4 separate regions of the Homo sapiens genome follow, and regions 1, 2 and 4 are each linked to region 3. Evidence: fine-mapped QTL for protein levels in blood plasma. Region 3 holds a variant in brackets. A gene starts in each other region. All regions are shown on their forward strands.

What was found. PIP is the chance, under the fine-mapping model, that this variant and not a neighbour inherited with it causes the effect. Protein levels are from antibody-based Olink assays in UK Biobank. Linkage for the fine-mapping came from a reference panel and not from the study's own genotypes, which makes the PIPs less certain.
Region 1: it holds the start of CPA4, and the variant in region 3 is fine-mapped to the plasma level of the CPA4 protein (UK Biobank, PIP above 0.99).
Region 2: it holds the start of ENO3, and the variant in region 3 is fine-mapped to the plasma level of the ENO3 protein (UK Biobank, PIP above 0.99).
Region 4: it holds the start of S100A13, and the variant in region 3 is fine-mapped to the plasma level of the S100A13 protein (UK Biobank, PIP above 0.99).

What each region holds. Positions count from the first base shown.
Region 1 is chr7:130,291,336-130,295,476 of GRCh38, forward strand. It overlaps CPA4 (carboxypeptidase A4), which reads left to right and starts at 1,826. Exons shown (of 11, transcript NM_016352.4): 1 at 1,826-1,913. The coding sequence starts at 1,846. RefSeq lists an enhancer at 2,231-2,320.
Region 2 is chr17:4,948,563-4,952,692 of GRCh38, forward strand. ENO3 (enolase 3) reads left to right here and starts at 2,557. Exons shown (of 12, transcript NM_053013.4): 1 at 2,557-2,620; 2 at 3,266-3,352. The coding sequence starts at 3,268. RefSeq lists silencers at 1-177, 308-557, 1,018-1,427, 1,478-1,707 and enhancers at 758-927, 3,089-3,823.
Region 3 is chr19:54,250,706-54,254,862 of GRCh38, forward strand. LILRB5 (leukocyte immunoglobulin like receptor B5) reads right to left here. Exons shown (of 13, transcript NM_001081442.3): 6 at 4,030-4,157; 7 at 3,660-3,710; 8 at 3,313-3,363; 9 at 2,166-2,282; 10 at 1,781-1,844; 11 at 1,661-1,698; 12 at 1,349-1,401; 13 at 1-227. The coding sequence ends at 81. Among named protein-coding and RNA genes, the nearest start is that of LILRB5, 4.5 kb to the right of the region's middle. RefSeq lists an enhancer at 789-1,406. The variant T/C (reference allele first, on the strand shown) is at 2,089.
Region 4 is chr1:153,623,965-153,628,099 of GRCh38, forward strand. S100A13 (S100 calcium binding protein A13) reads right to left here and starts at 3,541. Exons shown (of 3, transcript NM_001024211.2): 1 at 3,519-3,541; 2 at 2,356-2,569. The coding sequence starts at 2,508. RefSeq lists an enhancer at 2,963-3,788.

The DNA.
Region 1 (4,141 bases), not on the chromosome of region 3:
CCCATTAGGGATTTAGGTTTTCTTCATGTGGATGATTTTCCCTGGGAGAAAAGGTAGGAACTAAATTTCAGCTTGCCTAGAATGCTTGGTCCTTGATTCTCCCACTTCACATCTCTTACAGATTTGGGTCTCAGTTGTTCTTGTTGCTGACTTCAAAGCTGACATCGATCTCAGTGACGCTGAGCCCACGCTTTGTGGTGGACAGGGTGGGTGTAGGAATTCAGTTGAAGTGTTGAGAGGACAAAAGGACCCTGAGGGAGCAAGAGGAGATGATGGCCCCTAGCTCCACAGCTCCTAACAAAGGCTCTCTCTGGGACCACACTTGAGATTCTGCACCCTCCTTTTGATTAGGCTGGTTCTTGAGCCCTGGCTAAGCCAGCCTGAGCAAAGATCCTGCGAAGTCATCCCTCCCACCTTGATATCTGATCAAGTTCCTCATCCCCACCTTTGATGGGGACTTTGATGTATAAGTCCTTGGCCTGCTTTTAGCAAGAATCCCCCTACCTTGATGTCTTCTCTTAGTAATCCCACTGATCCTCTCTGTTTTCTTTGCCGTATTCAGTGTTAAGCACAGTAAGTCTTTCCTACTGAAATAGCCATGGTCCTAATCATAATAATCTTGAATTAGGTCTTACATTTTAACACAGGTCAGGATAGTTTTTCTTTAACTCTCTCAACTATGACCCTTGGTTGTGTCCACTCCCTTTGAGTGGGTGTGGAAAGCATGTAGACCGTAGGGAGGGTGGGATGGGAAAGGCTGTGGGAACTGGGGCTCCCAGGACAGACTCAAAGGTCCCAGAGCCCCTGAAGGCGTTATGGAGATATGAGTGTCTTCCATTTATTCAGCTGTGACTTGGCGGAAAGGACACCAGACCCACAGTCTAGGAAGTATAAGAAAATCTTATTATTTATTTATTTATTTATTTGAGATGGAGTCTCACTCTGTCGCCCAGGCTGGAGTGCAGTGGTGCGATCTCGGCTCACTGCAAGCTCCGCCTCCCAGGTTCACGCCATTCTCCTGAGTAGCTGGGACTACAGGCGTCCGCCACCACGCCCGGCTAATTTTTTGTATTTTTAGTAGAGACGAGGTTTCACTGTGATAGCCAGGATGGTCTCAATCTCCTGACCTCGTGATCCGCCCACCTCGGCCTCCCAAAGTGCTAGGATTACAGGCATGAGCCACCTCGCCCGGCTGAAAATCTTATTATTGATAAAACCATTAAGCCTTCCCCATAGATCAGACCCCAAGGAACACTGATAATTTATTCAGACTAAAACATCCTTTCTATATCATTTGCCTGATACATTTCTATTTCCTTAGTGGAGTCAGAAGAATTAGGCTTCAGATACATAAAAGAGGCCCCAAACCTCTTTCCTCATCCTGACCTGCCCTGGTGAAATTCTCTGGCAGGGCTTGTCAAGCATGTGGTCTTGGAGCCAGCTCAGTCTTGCTTTGATAGTCTTAACTTTTTTATTATTATTCTAGAGGTAATTCTATGCCAGGTTTATAATCTGACCTCTCCTATCAGGATAAATTCCATCCAACACTGTGGAATTAGCTTATTCACTGAAAAAACACTATTTAAATGCCAAGTGATGAGCAATATGGTACCCTTGGCACAGACTTTTTCAGCTCCTGGAGCAAGTTCCTGACCTTGTAAATTGAGATGCTCAACCTTTATCACTTGAAAGGAATGGGAGAGGCATTGGTAGGGCCTGCCTGTCACAGTCAGAGTTGCAAGGGTGCTTGGGAATCACATTAGCATTTTTGAGGACTTGAGTCACTCTCAGACTCTTTATAAATACAGCTTGACTCAGCCACTGTATGACTGACTCCCCGGGGACATGAGGTGGATACTGTTCATTGGGGCCCTTATTGGGTCCAGCATCTGTGGCCAAGAAAAATTTTTTGGGTAAGTTCCTTTTGGACTTATTATTTGGTTATTTCAGAAATATGGGAGCCAAATGGAACTGAAAATGAATGGCTGATAATAGCTCACATGGAGGAAGAAGACCTGGGCTCTTGTTCCAGCTTTGCCCCTGTGTCATCCTGGACAAGTCCACTCTCTTCTCTGAGACCCCATTTCATCTGTGAAATCAGGACTAGATGATCATTGCAGTCTCTCCCCAGCTCCCTCATCTCCTGCCAGTTCTTTTTCTGCCTAGTTCTTACTTATAAGGTCAGTTCCAGGCATCTACTTTCTTACTCCTACCTTATTAATTACTAAGAGTTACTGGTTACTAAGAGCTACGTTATTAATTACTAAGAGTTACTGGTTACCAGAAATGGTTTGTTTCCAATTTCCGCCATGCATAAAGGGAAACCCTGGGTCTCAAGCTTGTTGGTTTCACTTCTTTGTTAATGGCGAAGGCTTTGCAGAGCTGGTGCCTTCTCTTGATCTGCAGTTTAATGCTCTACCCCTGAGCTACACCCTCTTCTGAGCTGGTGCTTTCTTACTGGCTTCTGGGACGTGGAGATTTCACAGGTCTTGCCTAGACACAGCTATGAAAATGACATGCAGAGACACATGCCTGAACACCGTGTGTGTGTGCGCGTGTGTGTGTGCACACACACACGTGCTCAACACGCTCCATGCAGAATACTTTGAGGTTTGCAGGGGAGAGGACATTTGGGTGGTAGGAGAGATAAAAGGGATACCATGGTGCCCTGTTAGAAGACTGAATTATAATAACTCATTACTGCATAATACTTTACCATTTGCAAAGAGCTTTCATGTACATTATCTTTTTGATCACACAACAACTTTGCCAGGCAGGGGTGTTATTTTCTTCCACTTAAACATGAAAAAAATCAGCCTTAGAATGTTAAGGAACGCGCTCAAGGCCACTTAGCTGGGAAGCAGGGGAGCTGGAACTCTGAACGTAAAACTCGTACCCTTTTGCTATAACACAAGTTCATCTCCAAATAAAATCCTATATCTCTTGGATCTGTCTCTTAGTTTTCTTTCTATTTTACTATCTGGCTAATGAGACTTTGGGGTTGTTTTTTGAGGTAATTACTTATATGAGATTGACTAAGTTTTATGATGATGACTTCTGTTCACACCTGTGTCTCTGTTGCCAAATAGCTCAGAGGGGTTAGGAGTGGCAGGTGGCCAGGGAAGATTTTCCCACAGGCGGCTCAGCAGTAGGTGTGTAGTGACTAGACTTGCTGCCGTGTGGGCTGACGCATGGAACTGTCAGGCTCCCACTGCAGCTATTCATGTGGCTGAAAAATCTCTATTTCGCAAGATACAGACCTCTCTTGCAATGTGGTGGGCACCTGGGCTGCGACAGCTGGGCCAGGCCCTAGAATGCTCTCTGCAGGAATTTTGCACAGAAAAAGCTGTGTGCCTGAGCTGACTGCAGATGGTTTGAACTGATAGTGTCATTCTCATCCCCAAATCCATTCTCACGCCATAGTAGGAAACCTAGCAAAGGTAGTGGAATTCTTCCTGGGCTCTCTAGAGGTGTCCCAGACACCCAGCTTTTAGAGCAAGGGGAACATTTAGAGCAAGGGGAAGCTGGCCTCTGAGCATTCAAGTGGTTGGGAAGCCAGGCTCTGGATTGGCTGCTGAAGATGAGGATGATGGTTTCTCCCCACCACCCACCACCCATTCCCCTCCCTTCCATCTGCCTCACCTATCTCCCCAGTCTCTCTTGCTCTACTGGAGTCTTCTGCCCTGGTCTTCAGAGATCTTCAGGATGGGACAATGGCCAGGATGCCTAGAGGCACCAGGCAGGCAGAGAACAGGAACCAGTTGCAGAGCTGGTTACAGCATCAACAGTAGCTGGCAGGCATCTAAGAGTTCTATGAAACCATCTCTTAATATTCTTTGTGGTGGCTGCTAAGCCTGGCTAGGGAGGCAGATGAGAAAGGCACAAAGGACGGGCCACTTGGCTGTCAGCATGGTGAAAGGGGAGGGATAGATGCTCAGTCACCAAAGTGGGTATTGACTGTCCAAAGCACAGACTCCTGTGAGGGTGAGGGAGTGGGAGTGCCAGCCATTGCAATGGCAGCAGCTGGACGCCCTGTCTATTGGAGAGGATCAAGTTAAGAGGAGCTGTGAGAACACCTGTGTGGAGCAGGAGGGGCAGACATGGCCACCTGTGAATCCCAACACGTCCCCCTCCCAGGCCA
Region 2 (4,130 bases), not on the chromosome of region 3:
TCCCCCCCCCCGCCCCGCTAGATTTTTATTTGCAAAGGACGGTAGGGGCGGGGCCTACTCCCCATTCCCTCCCTCCCCCACTCGCCAGCCCAGACACCGAACTTTGCAAATGCAATTTTAAAAATCCCTCCCCCTATTGCAAAATTTGCAGAGTTCGATGGAAAGCAATGCAGAAGGATGGGGGGTGGCGGGAGAGAGGTGAAGGGTAGGGTTTGCTCCAATTTGCACTGAATATAAACCAGACTTTGGTATCGGGGCAGGGAGTGAGCCAGAAGAAGGAAGGAAGGAGAAAGCAGGAGGAATTAGCAAGCTGCAAATTTAGCAAATTAAGGAGAGTTCGGGGAGCCCAGGGTTAAACGGGATGACTCCTCCTTCCCCCACCTCCGCCGAAGGGAAGGACCGGCGGGCGGCGGCGCGTGTGCCCGCGCCTGCGCCTGCGCCGGGGCCGGGAGTGCATGGGGCGGTCGGGGCCGGAGCCGGCTGCACGGGAGCGCGCCCGGCCCGACCCGTGTGGACCCTGCGGGAAAGGAAGGCGGGCTGGGGACGTGTCTCCCGCCTGGCGGAAGGGGCGGGGGCGAAGCCGTGCGCGCTGCCGCCTCACCACCCTTGATTTTACTTATTCAAGTAATAAGAAAGCAAAGAAGAGTTTGGCCAAATCCTCTAGTCGCTCTCATAGCTGAAGGCACCCACCGGGGCCACTTCTGTCCCCAGCGTCTTCTCGGGTCGTGCAGGTTGGGTTCACCAGGGCCCATTCTCAGTCTAGAGGATTGTCCCTTCTCTGGATCGGCTCTAGCCCAGGGCCTCACCCCACATCCCAGCCCCGCCCGCCCCAGGCAGGCAATGTCTGGATCACCGGCCGTGCCCCTTGGCCTGTGTCTGCAGAGGTCACAGAGCGCGGACACCCGCGGGGCTTAACAGGCGGGGCTATTTTTCGAGGCGGAAGAATACTCAAGTTGCAAGAGTGGCAACTTTTTCAAGAAGGGGAAAGTCCCACTTCGGGCCCTTTGGGTTTCTTCGCAGTCAGATGTGCGCTCACAGCCACCTGGGGAGGGCGGGACGGGCGGGACGGCCGTGCGGCGGCCGCGGTGAAACCGCCTCCTCCGACCCGCCGCCGAGGGCTGGGCGGCTTCCGGAGCCTGGGCTAGGGGCAAGGGGTCACCGAGCGCGGCCCGGGCGGAAAGGGGGTTGGTTTTCTCTCTCCTCCCGAGCGCGGCGCGCATCCCTGGCGTCCACGCCGAATCCCACAGTCCCCGACGCCCCTCGAGTCCGTGTTCCTCGACAGCCGCGCGGCTGAGTCACTGGCGGGCTCGGGCGGGGCCGCACCCGGGCACGTGGCGGCGCTCCCCGCCCGCCATCTCCTGACCCCTGGCCCACCGCACCCCTACCCCAGGGTGGAAAAATCCCGGGAGGAGCGGCCTGAGATGAGGGGGCGGGGCGAGAGGGGAGACTGGACGGGTGGCGGGGCAGGTGGCCTGGGGTGGGGGCTGGGAGGCCGCGCGGGCCGGCGGGGCGGGGAGCAGGGGTGGGGAGAGGGCGGCGGGGGTGAGTCACCGGGCGCGCGCTGCCCCGGCGCCGACGGGAAGGGCCTCCGAGTCGGGCCGAGGCGCCGTGTGTCCCCCGCCGGTCGGCTGGTATGGCTGCAGAGGAGCTCGGGGCAGACCCCGCACTGGCCCCAGAGCCGGCAAAGTGGAGATCTCTACCGAGGGCAGAGACCTACCTCCCCGCAGTGCTACAAGTGGGGCGCCGGAAGAGCCCCAGGCGTGCAGAAGCTCACAAAAGGCCACCCGTCCTCGGTCCATTCATTTTTGTTCACTGTTGATTCAGCCCCATTCATTGATGGGCTGGGGCCGTGCGCTGAGCGCCCACAGTCGATGGGGAAAGGGGCTCTGACCGACAGTCCCCACGCCGGGCGACAAGTGCTGTCCCAGCGTTATCAGTCGGGCGCCTTGCCAGCCGAAAGGGCCTGTCTAAATTCGTTTCCTGTCCCCTAACTCATCCCGGCGCTGGCTGGCCTGGAGAGGGTAGGATGGGGCGGCGCCGAGAATGGCCGTTATGAGGACCCTAAGAGGTGAGACCCTCTCGCCTTCTGGGGTGGGGGGTCCCGTCCTTTCCCCCACTGAGGACAGAGGCCCGCCCAGCGATCTGAGCATGTGTGGACGTCAATCTTGCAGCCCCTCTTCCAGGCCCCCTCCCCAGCCTTGCAGGGCTCAGGTTACCCCTGGCCTTTCCTAAAGGTCACTCATTCCTCTTGACGTTTGCAAAAGGGGAATGTAATCCTGGGGTGGGGGGAGACCCCTCATCTGTAGCCCCTCCCTTGCTCCTCCCAAAGGGTGGAATTAGAACAGGGACTGTTATTGGGAGACAGAAAGTGGGGGATAGTAGTTGACCTTTGGTAAGGGGGCAGGTGCCCAGGGCCAGAGGCTTCTGCTTCAGGCTGTAGTGGGCACTTGGCTGCCAGCCCAGTGTGAAGGGGGGAGGATGGAGAGAAAGAGAGGCGGGGCTGGCTGGGGACCGAGTGGCTCAGGGATAAATGCGCAGCCTGAGAGGGGGTGAGCTGACACTGTCCCAGCTGCCACCTAGACTCGGAGCTCCATCCAAACCTCCAGCGAAGACATCCCAGGTCGGGTGAATCTTCCAGCCCTGGGGGTGGAGGTAGTAAAGGGTGAGCATGGTATTGGCTTGGAGGAAGTGGGGGACATTTCTGCTTTTTTTCCTCCTGGGACTGGAGATGCTTGAAAAAGCTGGGGGAAGGGGCGGCTGGAGCAAGCAGATGGGACAAACTCTGGGAACACCGAAGGATCTAGGGAAAGGAGGCTGTGAGGAGGGCAGCAGGGATGGATAGAAAAGGGCAGCTAGAGCTGGAACCTGATAGGGAATTGGGGGCCCAAGGAGATTTCGGAGCAGGAAAATGAGAACCAGAAAGGATTTGAAGGCCACCAGCCATGGAGAACAGACTGCTTGACCAGAGGGGTGGAAGGAGAAGGCCTAAGTGGAGGCTTGGGGGAGGTGGGGGCTTGGTGAGCGGTGGCATCCCAGGAGCTATAGATAAGAGGCCCCTGGATTCTTAGGATGGGAGGGTGGAATAAGAGCTGTTCTGAGTGGGGGAGGGGGCTGCGCCTGCCTCTTTGGTCTGTGACCTTTTTGTAGGGTATTTTTAGCTCCAGCACCTGCCTTCTTGGAGTGGGGAAGAATCTTAAAGGGCAAGGGATTTCTGGTTCCTTAAGAGATCAACTGTCTACACTCACTCACACCTCCTGTCCTGCAGCCATGGCCATGCAGAAAATCTTTGCCCGGGAAATCTTGGACTCCAGGGGCAACCCCACGGTGGAGGTGGACCTGCACACGGCCAAGGGTAACACAAGGCCCATTGGATAGGCTCGCCTCCGAAGACCCCAACCCTTTGGCCTTTGCCCCCCAGTTCTGTGCCATATCCTCTCCTTTCTCTCGGGTTCCCTTTCCCAGACTTCTTCCCAAGCCCCCTTCTTCCAACGTGGAACCAGAGCTGGAAGCTAGGAGAAGCAGGAGTCTCTCTCTGCACTGCCTCCTGTCCCTGAGCTCAGAGAGGACACCTCAGCCCTTTGAGAGGTAGAGAGACTCCCTGTGAGGTCCTTTTTTTTGTTTTGTTTTGTTTTGAGATGGAGTCTCGCTCTGTGGCCCGGGCTGGAGTGCAGTGGTGCAATCTCAGCTCACTGCAACCTCTGCCTCCCGGGTTTAAGTGATTCTTGTGCCTCAGCCTCCCAAGTAGCTGGGATTACAGGCCTGTGCCATCACGCCCAGCTAATTTTTTTTTTTTTTTTTTGAGATGGAGTCTCACTCTGTCGCCCAGGCTGGAGTGCAGTGGCGCGATCTAGGCTCACTGCAAGCTCCGCCTCCCGGGTTCACGCCATTCTCCTGCCTCAGCCTCCCGAGTAGCTGGGACTACAGCTAATTTTTTGTATTTTTAGTAGAGATGGGGTTTCACGGTGTCAGCCAGGATTGTCTCGATCTCCTGATCTCGTGATCCGCCCGCCTTGGCCTCCCAAAGTGCTGGGATTACAGGCGTGAGCCACCGCGCCCGGCCTCAGCTAATTTTTGTATTTTTAGCAGAGACGGTTTCGCCATGTTAGCCAGGCTGGTCTTGAACTCCTGAT
Region 3 (4,157 bases):
GTCCACTGGGGGCAGCTCCTGTGCCTTCTGGAGTCTCTGAGTCTCCTTCTGTTGAGTATGAGATCTGGGTCCCCCGTGGGCTAGTGGATGGCCAGGGGGGCGTAGATGCTGGGTTCAGCTGGAGGTTCCCTTTCCTGGGATGGAGGAGGCTCAGTTGCCTCCCGTCTGAGGGTCAAGCTGTGCAGCTGGGCGTAGGTCACATCCTGGGGGGCTTCAGATGCAGCAGCCTGCAGCGGGGGAGAGTGAGAGGGAAGGAACGTGGTGGGGGTGGGGGAGGCCTGGGGGCCTGGAGAGGAAAGGACTCTCTCAGTGTCCATCTGTCTGTCCTCTTCTGCCTGTCTGTCCTTTGTGTCCAGGAATTCCCCAGACAGTGGGGAAGGAGGAGAGGCCATTTCTCTCCTAGGTCTGGAGTGTTTCACCGGGGCATACGTCACTGCCTGGGGGTCTTCATCGTGTGGGCTCTGCTGGAGAGAGACAGTGGTGGGGGGTGTCCTTGAGTCCCCCTGACCTCCTGGAGTCAATTTTCCTCACTGTTCCCGGGGTGATCCGATTACATCCCTTTCCTGATGGAATCTCAGGGACGCCCTAAGGCCGTGGAGGGTCTGGCCGCTCCCTCCCTGTGGTTCTGGCCTCTGCTCCTCACTCTGACCTTGCCCATTTGGCTGCAGCCTCACGGGCCTTCCCGCAAGAGCTCGCTGCTGCCTCGGGGCCTTTGCACGGCTGTTTCCTCTGCCTGCAGGGGCTCGTCCATCAGAGGATCGTGTGCCCCACTCTGTCCAGGCTTCTCAGATGACAGCTGAGCAGACAGCCCTCCCCTTCCATTCAGACTGGCCCCACTGCCCCACACTCTCTGCCCTTTCCCTGGTTTATGTTCCTTACAGCACGTTGCACTCCTGGACACGATGCATTTATTTGCATTTTGTCTCCCACCATGAGGTGAGCTCAGGAGGCGGGGGCGGCTTTGCTCCCTGCTGTGTCTGCAGCTCCCATGGGGAGCCCCATCCACAGTGAGCTCCCTGGGAACACTCGCTGGTTGAATGAATGAAGGGGAGCCTGGGGGACCGGGTCGGTTCATTTATTCCTCATCCTCCTGAGGCCTGGGGAGAGCTCTAACAACCAGACGGCCAAACAGAGGATGAGGAGCAGGAAGGGGACCCGGGAGGAGGCCCACGAGGTCCCAGGACAGCAGAAGAGAGTGAGGTCGCAGCAGGCGGGAGGCAGCGTGCTGGACAAGGAGGGGTCCACCGTGACGATGCTGAGAGCCGGGGGAAGGAGGACAGAGAAGTCCTGCTGGATTAGATCTGGCACCAGGAGGCCTTTGGTGCCCGGGACAGGGGCGGGGCCTCACCGGAGCATCCATCTCCACCCCGTCCTTGGGCTGTGTGTCCTTCACGGCAGCATCTGCTGGGCCAGAGCAAGGGGTTCATCTCCTGGGAAGGTTCTCTGAGACTTCTCCGTCCTGCCAGCCCTTGCCCTGTTCCCACTAGGGTGGCTGAGATCCAGGGAGGGACTGTGATGTCCCTGAGGTCCCACAGTGTGGGTTCAGACCGCCTCCCCCTTGGCCCCAGACCCCCCCCAGCCTGTGCTCCTGCCCCCATTGCTACAGAAACTTTGGTGCTCCCTTGCCCACCCCAGGTGCCCTCCGCTTCTAGTCACTCACTGAGAATTTCCTCCTGGATGTCAGCAACTGGGCTGGCCCTGGGGGAGGACACGGGAGTGTGAGGGGCAGTGAGGGGGCTGTGCGGGTGGATGGGAGTCTTGGGTCTTCATGCAGAATTACCTCTTCTGCAGGCCCTGGTCCTTGGGCTCTGGCCCCGCAGCCCCTGCAGGACGGTAGAAATGGGCTGGACAGAGATGGACAGAGGGTCAGGCCTGGGAGAATTCGAACCAGCTGCCCTGCACACACAACTCGAGCGGAAAGAAGGAAACCTGGAGGCCCACTGGCACTGAGGCTTTAAATACGTCGTAAGTTTAAAGTAAAATCAGAAGAATCAAGCACTTCCACACATGCTCACATTTATTCTCTTCTTTCTCGATCGATTTTTCACCTGGGAATTTCTGGAGCAGTTTTTCTAAGCTGACTTTCCT[T/C]TGTGTTTGGTTTCCCTCTGGCTGGTGCCCCGAGCCCACCCTCGGTCGGCCCACGGGTTCCCCCATTCCCTACTCACCCGATGTCCTGTGTTTGCTCTGATGCCGATGTCGGAGGAGGAGGAAGAGGAGGAGGAACAGCAGCAGGACGAAGGCCACTGAGACCCCAGTCACAACCCCCAGGTGCCTTCCCAGACCTTGAGCGTGATGACGTTGGGAATGGGGATGACGTCATTGATGTGAGCACCTTCTGTGTGCAGGCGCGAGCTAGGTCTTTCCTTCATGAGCTCCAACCCTCACAGCAGTTGTGCAACATGGGATTGCCAACCCCCCAATTCACAGAGGAGCAAACTGAGGCTCAGAGAGGGGAATCGCCTGCCCCAGGCTCCTCAGCCTGGAAGAAGCAGGTCTGGGAAGGGAACCAGGGACTTTGTGTTTTCCCCAGCTGTCCTCCTGCTGCCCCACCAGGTGCACACCTGTTTCCTATTTGACAGGAGGGGCCTGTCCTAGTGTCTCCATCTGGGGCTGGTGTCCTTCTTAGGATCCTCCCTTCCCCAGCACAGCAGGGCCTGGGAGAGGGAGTGGGTTGTGCAGGACGGACCCTGCATTGCTCTCACTCCCAGCTCAGCCAGGTCCGTTTCCCACTCTGCCAAGTTCCCATACTCCCATGCAGAACCTGTCTGGATAGGGGCTCTGTGTGTATCTGGGAAGGGCTGAGGGTAGCAGGAGGACGGTGCCCCTGCCGAGCTGTGTACAGGGCCAGGTCCCATGATTTTGCTTACGCCTCGCAGCAGTTCTGTGAGCTGGATGGGACTGAGCCAGTTTACAGCTGCTGAAACTGAGTCAGAGTAGAAAGTTGACCTGCCTGGGCCCACGGTGGGATGCGGCAGAGCTGGGAAGTGAACCCAGGAGTCTGACCCGCAGCCCTTGTTCTCTGCACCTGAGCGGAGCCCCGGAGCTGCAGGGAAAGAGCCTGAATGCCCCAAACCACGGCCCTGCTCCCCTCCCCTGCCCCAGGTCACCGTCACTGCTGCCGGTGGGACAGGACAGTCCCCTGAAGAATCCCATCAATGCAGGCCTCTCTCCTTTACACTTGGAGAAACTGAGGCCCAGGCAGGGGAAGGGCTTGTGCACTTCACCATCTCCAGAGGAGCCTGAACCTACGACAGAACCCACCCCTGCCTCCCCTGGTCTCCGCCCACCTCCCACTCAGAGCCCCTCACTCACCACTCTGGGGATCCAACCCCGTGGGGGTGAGGGGCTGGTCCTCAGGGCCTGCTGGGTCAGGACGGGGAGGTGAGGGCTGGGGCTGCCCTGCTCCCCACATCAGCCCGGCTGCTCCTCCCCCAGGCTGGGCCCCAACACCCAACATCTCTCTCTGCCTCGACGCCCGCCCCCTCACCGGCCCAGCCTCAGAGCCCCGGGGAGCCTGTGGCCCCTCCTCTGGCTCTGCCCAGCTCCCTGGAGGGAAGCTCCCGCTTGAGTCTTTGAGGGGAATAGGATCCTCGGGGAGACTCAGGGCTGCCTGGGGGGAGACCACGCTCCCTCCGAGCCCAGAGGCCTCAGTGACTCACCAGGTGTGGGGGTGGAGCCTGTAGGTGAGAGGCTGGGATCCCCAGAGGGTCCTGGGAATAAGCACAGAAAGGGAGCGAGGCGCTTTGGTGCTGAGTGAGGAAACCCGTCCCTCCACCTGCCCGTGGCTTCTCTGGAAACTTTCTTCTGCTCACCTTTCACCATTTGCATCCCAGGAGATGGGGCCAAGTGTGGGCATGCCTGGGGAGCCCCCGTTGTCCTCCTCCCCTCTGAGGGGTGAGTCTCCCTCTGGCTGAGCCCCCCTCAAACCCTCCCCCCCGCACCGCGACTCCATCCCAGCCCAGAGCTCTCCTGGGGGCAGGGCCTGAGCTGAGCCTTTGAGCTTGGACAGGACAGGGTCAGGGCCCTCACCTGAGACCACGAGCTCCTGGGGGTAACTAGGGCTGGACAGCAGGTAGGGGTAGGACCTGATTGCGCTGTAGCATCGGTAGGTTCCACCCTGGGCTGAGGTCACAGGACTCATGGAGAATTCAGCCTGG
Region 4 (4,135 bases), not on the chromosome of region 3:
TGATTACAATTAGAAGCCTTAGAACCTGAGGTGAGGAGGAAGGGCAATGAGGACCCGAGGGATGTTGATGGAAGATGCAAAAGTGAGAGGGTCGAGAGACTGAAGGTACCTGAGGAGTCAGGGAAGTGCTGAAGTGGAGAAGCTAGAGAGGGGAACAGAACTGGAATGACAGGAGGAGGTCAGCAGATAAAGGGAAACTTGAAATCAAGATTTTGGAAGTTGTGCGTTATTTTGTTAATGACACAGTCTAAAGCATGAACAGAGGAGTGGGATGCTGAGATGTAAGAAGACAAATCTTTTTGGAAATGAGGAGTTGAGAAAATTGAAAGGCCCAGATGTTGGATGAATTGTCTGTGCGGATGCTGAAGCCACTGAGAATAACAACAGAAGCAGTGATGAGAAGAAAACAGTGAGCCAGGAGCTGAAGAGCTGTAAGGAGCGCAATAAGAAGAATGGCAGGTGGCAGATGATCTTCCAAGGCGCTGGGAAGTCTTAGAAAGAAGAAGAAACTAAAATCTAGAGATAATGGAAAGCAGAGAGGTCACTTCCTCCATTTCCAGGCCCAGAGGAAGTTGAATTTAGGAAAAAAAAAAAAAAAACCACAATCACTGCTTGACAAGGATATAAGGAATGCTGTCCCTTCAGGAGAGAACCTGAAGTTTCCAGTAAAAAAGATGAAAAAGGAAACGTCTGGCTGGGCACAGTGGCTCATGACTGTAATCCCAACACTTTGGAAGGCCAATGCAGGAGGATCACTTGAGGCCTAGAGTTTGAGACCAGCTTGGGAAACACAGAGAGACCACATCTCTACAAGTAACTTAAAAATTAGGCCAGGCGCGGTGGCTCACGCCTGTAATTCCAGCACTTTGAGAGGCCGAGGCAGGTGGATCACCTGAGATCAGGAGTTCGAAACCAGCCTGGCCAACATAGTGAAACCCCGTCTCTACTAAAAATACAAAAATTATCCAGGCATGGTGGCGGTTGCCTGTAATCCCAGCTACTCATGAGGCTGAGGTAAGAGAACCACTTGAACCCAGGAGGCAGAGGTTGCAGTGAGCCAAGATCGCACCATTGCACTCCAGCCTCGGTGACAGAGTGAGACTCTGTCACAAAAAAAGAAAAAATTAGCCAGGCAGTGTGGCATGCGCCTGTGGTCCCAGCTACTTGTGAGGCTGGGGCAGGAGGATTGCCTGAGCCCGGAAGGTCAAGGATGCAATGAGCTGTGATCGCACAGTGGCCTGGGCAACAGAGTGAGAAACCCTGTCTCAAAAAAAAGTCTGAGAAGTTGGAAGTTGTAGGGGATTTTGCAGATGAAAGACCATGAGTTTCAGAGACTCACTGTGTTCAAGGAGTCCATATTCACACACTTCAACGTGCCTGTGGATTTTCAGAAAGGATGTAAAACAAACTGTCAACAGCCAGAATGACCAGGCCTCTTCGAGGCCAGAGTCGATGAAATTTAAGACCTGACTCCAGCCTGTGAGTGCGAGAGAAGGAATGACTCTTACACCCTAGTAAGGGGATGCCCATAGCGGGTAGGGAGTCTTCACAGATGCACCCACAGACCCCCTACACTGAGGTCTATGACTCCATGAATTTGGCTGTGTTTTCATTTTTGATAAGCCCCTTTCCACTGCTAGGCCTCAGTTTCCATATATGTGAAGTGAGGAATGCGGACTGTGTTTTCTCTTGGCCTCCTTCCAGCTCTGACAGTCTGTGAATCTCCTGGAAGCCAGCTCTGGGTCCAGTCCTGTCTTGGGGAAATTAGACCAGAAAGGCACAGAGCATACACAAGAACCCAACAGCATCTTCTGACACAAGACCATACTCCCACTGGCACATAGTATCTTTGCTTACCTAATTATATGCATGGACACACAAACACACACATGTACACACCAGGCAAGAAAACTCACAACCGGGTCAGGCGCAGTGGCTTGCGCCTGTAACCACAGCACTTTGGGAGGCCGAGGCGGGTGGATCACCTGAGGTCAGGAGTTCGAGACCAGCCTGGCCAACCTGGTGAAACCCTGTCTCTACTAAAAATACAGAAATAGGCTCGGCGTGGTGGCACACACCTGTAATCCCAGCTACTCAGGAGGCTGAGGCAGGAGAATCACTTGAACCCCGGAGATGGAGGTTGCAGTGAGCCAAGATCACACCACTGCACTCCGGCCTGGGCAACAGAGTGAGACTTTGTCTCGAAAAAACAAAAGAAAACCTGCAACCATTGACACATGCAGCCACCCACACCCTTTCTTGTGGTCACCTCACCGTACTCGGCACCATCACGTCCTAAACACAGTGTCCCATAATCATCATCTCACAAAATCTCAGTCCCAGACTTCTGCCTACCTTGAGCAGATGGGGCAACTGCTGGGTAACCAGCTCTTTGAACTCGTTGACGCTGAGGCTATCCTTCCGGCCCTCCTGCCTTGCAAAGGTGAAGAAGGTGGTGACCACGGTCTCAATGGACTCCTCTAGCTCTGTCAGTGGTTCTGCTGCCATTAGGACCCTGAGGCCAAAGCTGATGTCCTCAAGGGGCTAGCTGACCTTTGTCAGGGCTGACCTGTGGAAGAGAGAAGGAGCAGAGAGGGAGAGTCAGGGAGCCCCAAGATGCAGGAATGGTTCAGAAGGTCCCTGCCTTGGTGTTATCACATCAGTCTCAGCCTGGAGGGGGCATATGGGGAAAGAGGGAGAGGACAGGGGTTGAGCTTGGGGCAGCAGACCAGGCAACGGCATCTCAGTTTTGGTGGGGGCAGGAGATTCAGCTCCAGAAACCCCCTCTTCTGTAGGTCTCACAATCCGGGATCCTTTTTAAATGTCTGTGGCTTAGGGACCCCTCTGTGGTGATCCCTCGATCTGGAGACCCCTCTACTTGAGAGGAGGTCTTCAGTTGAAGGTCCTTCTTGGAGTCCTTCAAGTCTGGTGGCCCCTCTGTGGCGTGTCTGTCTCAAGAATCCCTTCTTGTCTCACCCAGACTCACAGGTCATAAGGTTGTTTGTCTCCAAAGCTTGTTTATGTTGGGCCCTGGTCTCCGGCCACTCGCATCCGCCCACACACACTCTAACCGCTCCTCCCAGCAGAGAAGCACAGGGTCTGGCAAATGTCCCCTGTGGTCAGAGCTGGCTCCGTCTGAACAGACCCATTTTCTCTGCCCCGCTCCACCCTTACCTCTCCTCAGCGGCAGCAGGGCAGAGTGCTGAACCCAGGACCCCACAGATCCTCCCCGCTCCTGTCTCCCGGTGACAAGGGTCCTGGAACGGGGCGTCTCTGACTCCCTGCTCCAGGACGGGTTTAGTACAGGCACTCACAACCCCCTGGGGTGCGGCGGGTGGGGCTGGAAGAGGCATTCTCTTTTCTGTCCACCCCGTCACACACTCCTGCACGCGCTGTTGCTCGATCATCCAAAGCTCCTTCCTGAATTCCTGTCTGAGCTGGCTCTGGGGGAGGGACCTGGGAGCCCAGGAAGAAAAAATGATCTCCAGCCTCCCTCCAGGGTCAGCCATGAGACTCACCCGGCAAGGAGATGGGGTAGAGTGAGCTGGAGCCTCAGGGCTGAGGTTTATAAGCAGCGGGGAAGGAGGAGAGAGCTGCTTCCAAGCCCGGAGGTGTCAAATTTCCGTGGTCGATTCTGAAGACCAGAGACAGCCCAATCAGGCCGCTTGCCCTGAGCCCTCAGGTCTGGACCCGGGCTCCCTGCCAGCCACACGAGCGCCCCCACTTGGTCAGGGAGAGGAGCTGCCTGGACAGATCTCGTTCGGCAGGGGTCCCAGGGTCCTAGTCCTCTCAATACTGGGGGCTGCTGCCACCATACCCATGTCTAATCAGGAGTGTGTATGCTGAGGGGGGAAGAGGGAGGCAACCAATCAAGGGAGCTCAACACTGAGAGGCCCAATCTGAGACACACACAGAGGCCCCTTGGAATGAGATCCCACAAAGGATGCTACAGACCAAGATCCCTCAGAGAACCCCAGGCTGAGGCCCCACACACAGAGGGGGATCCAGGTTGAGACCCCCAGAGAAGAGTCCTGGATTGAAATCCCTCTGTGGGTTCTCAGACTCCCAAGACTAAGTTTCTCACTGAGGGTCCTCTCAGTGAGGCCCCATGGAGGAGCCACAGACTAAGACCCCC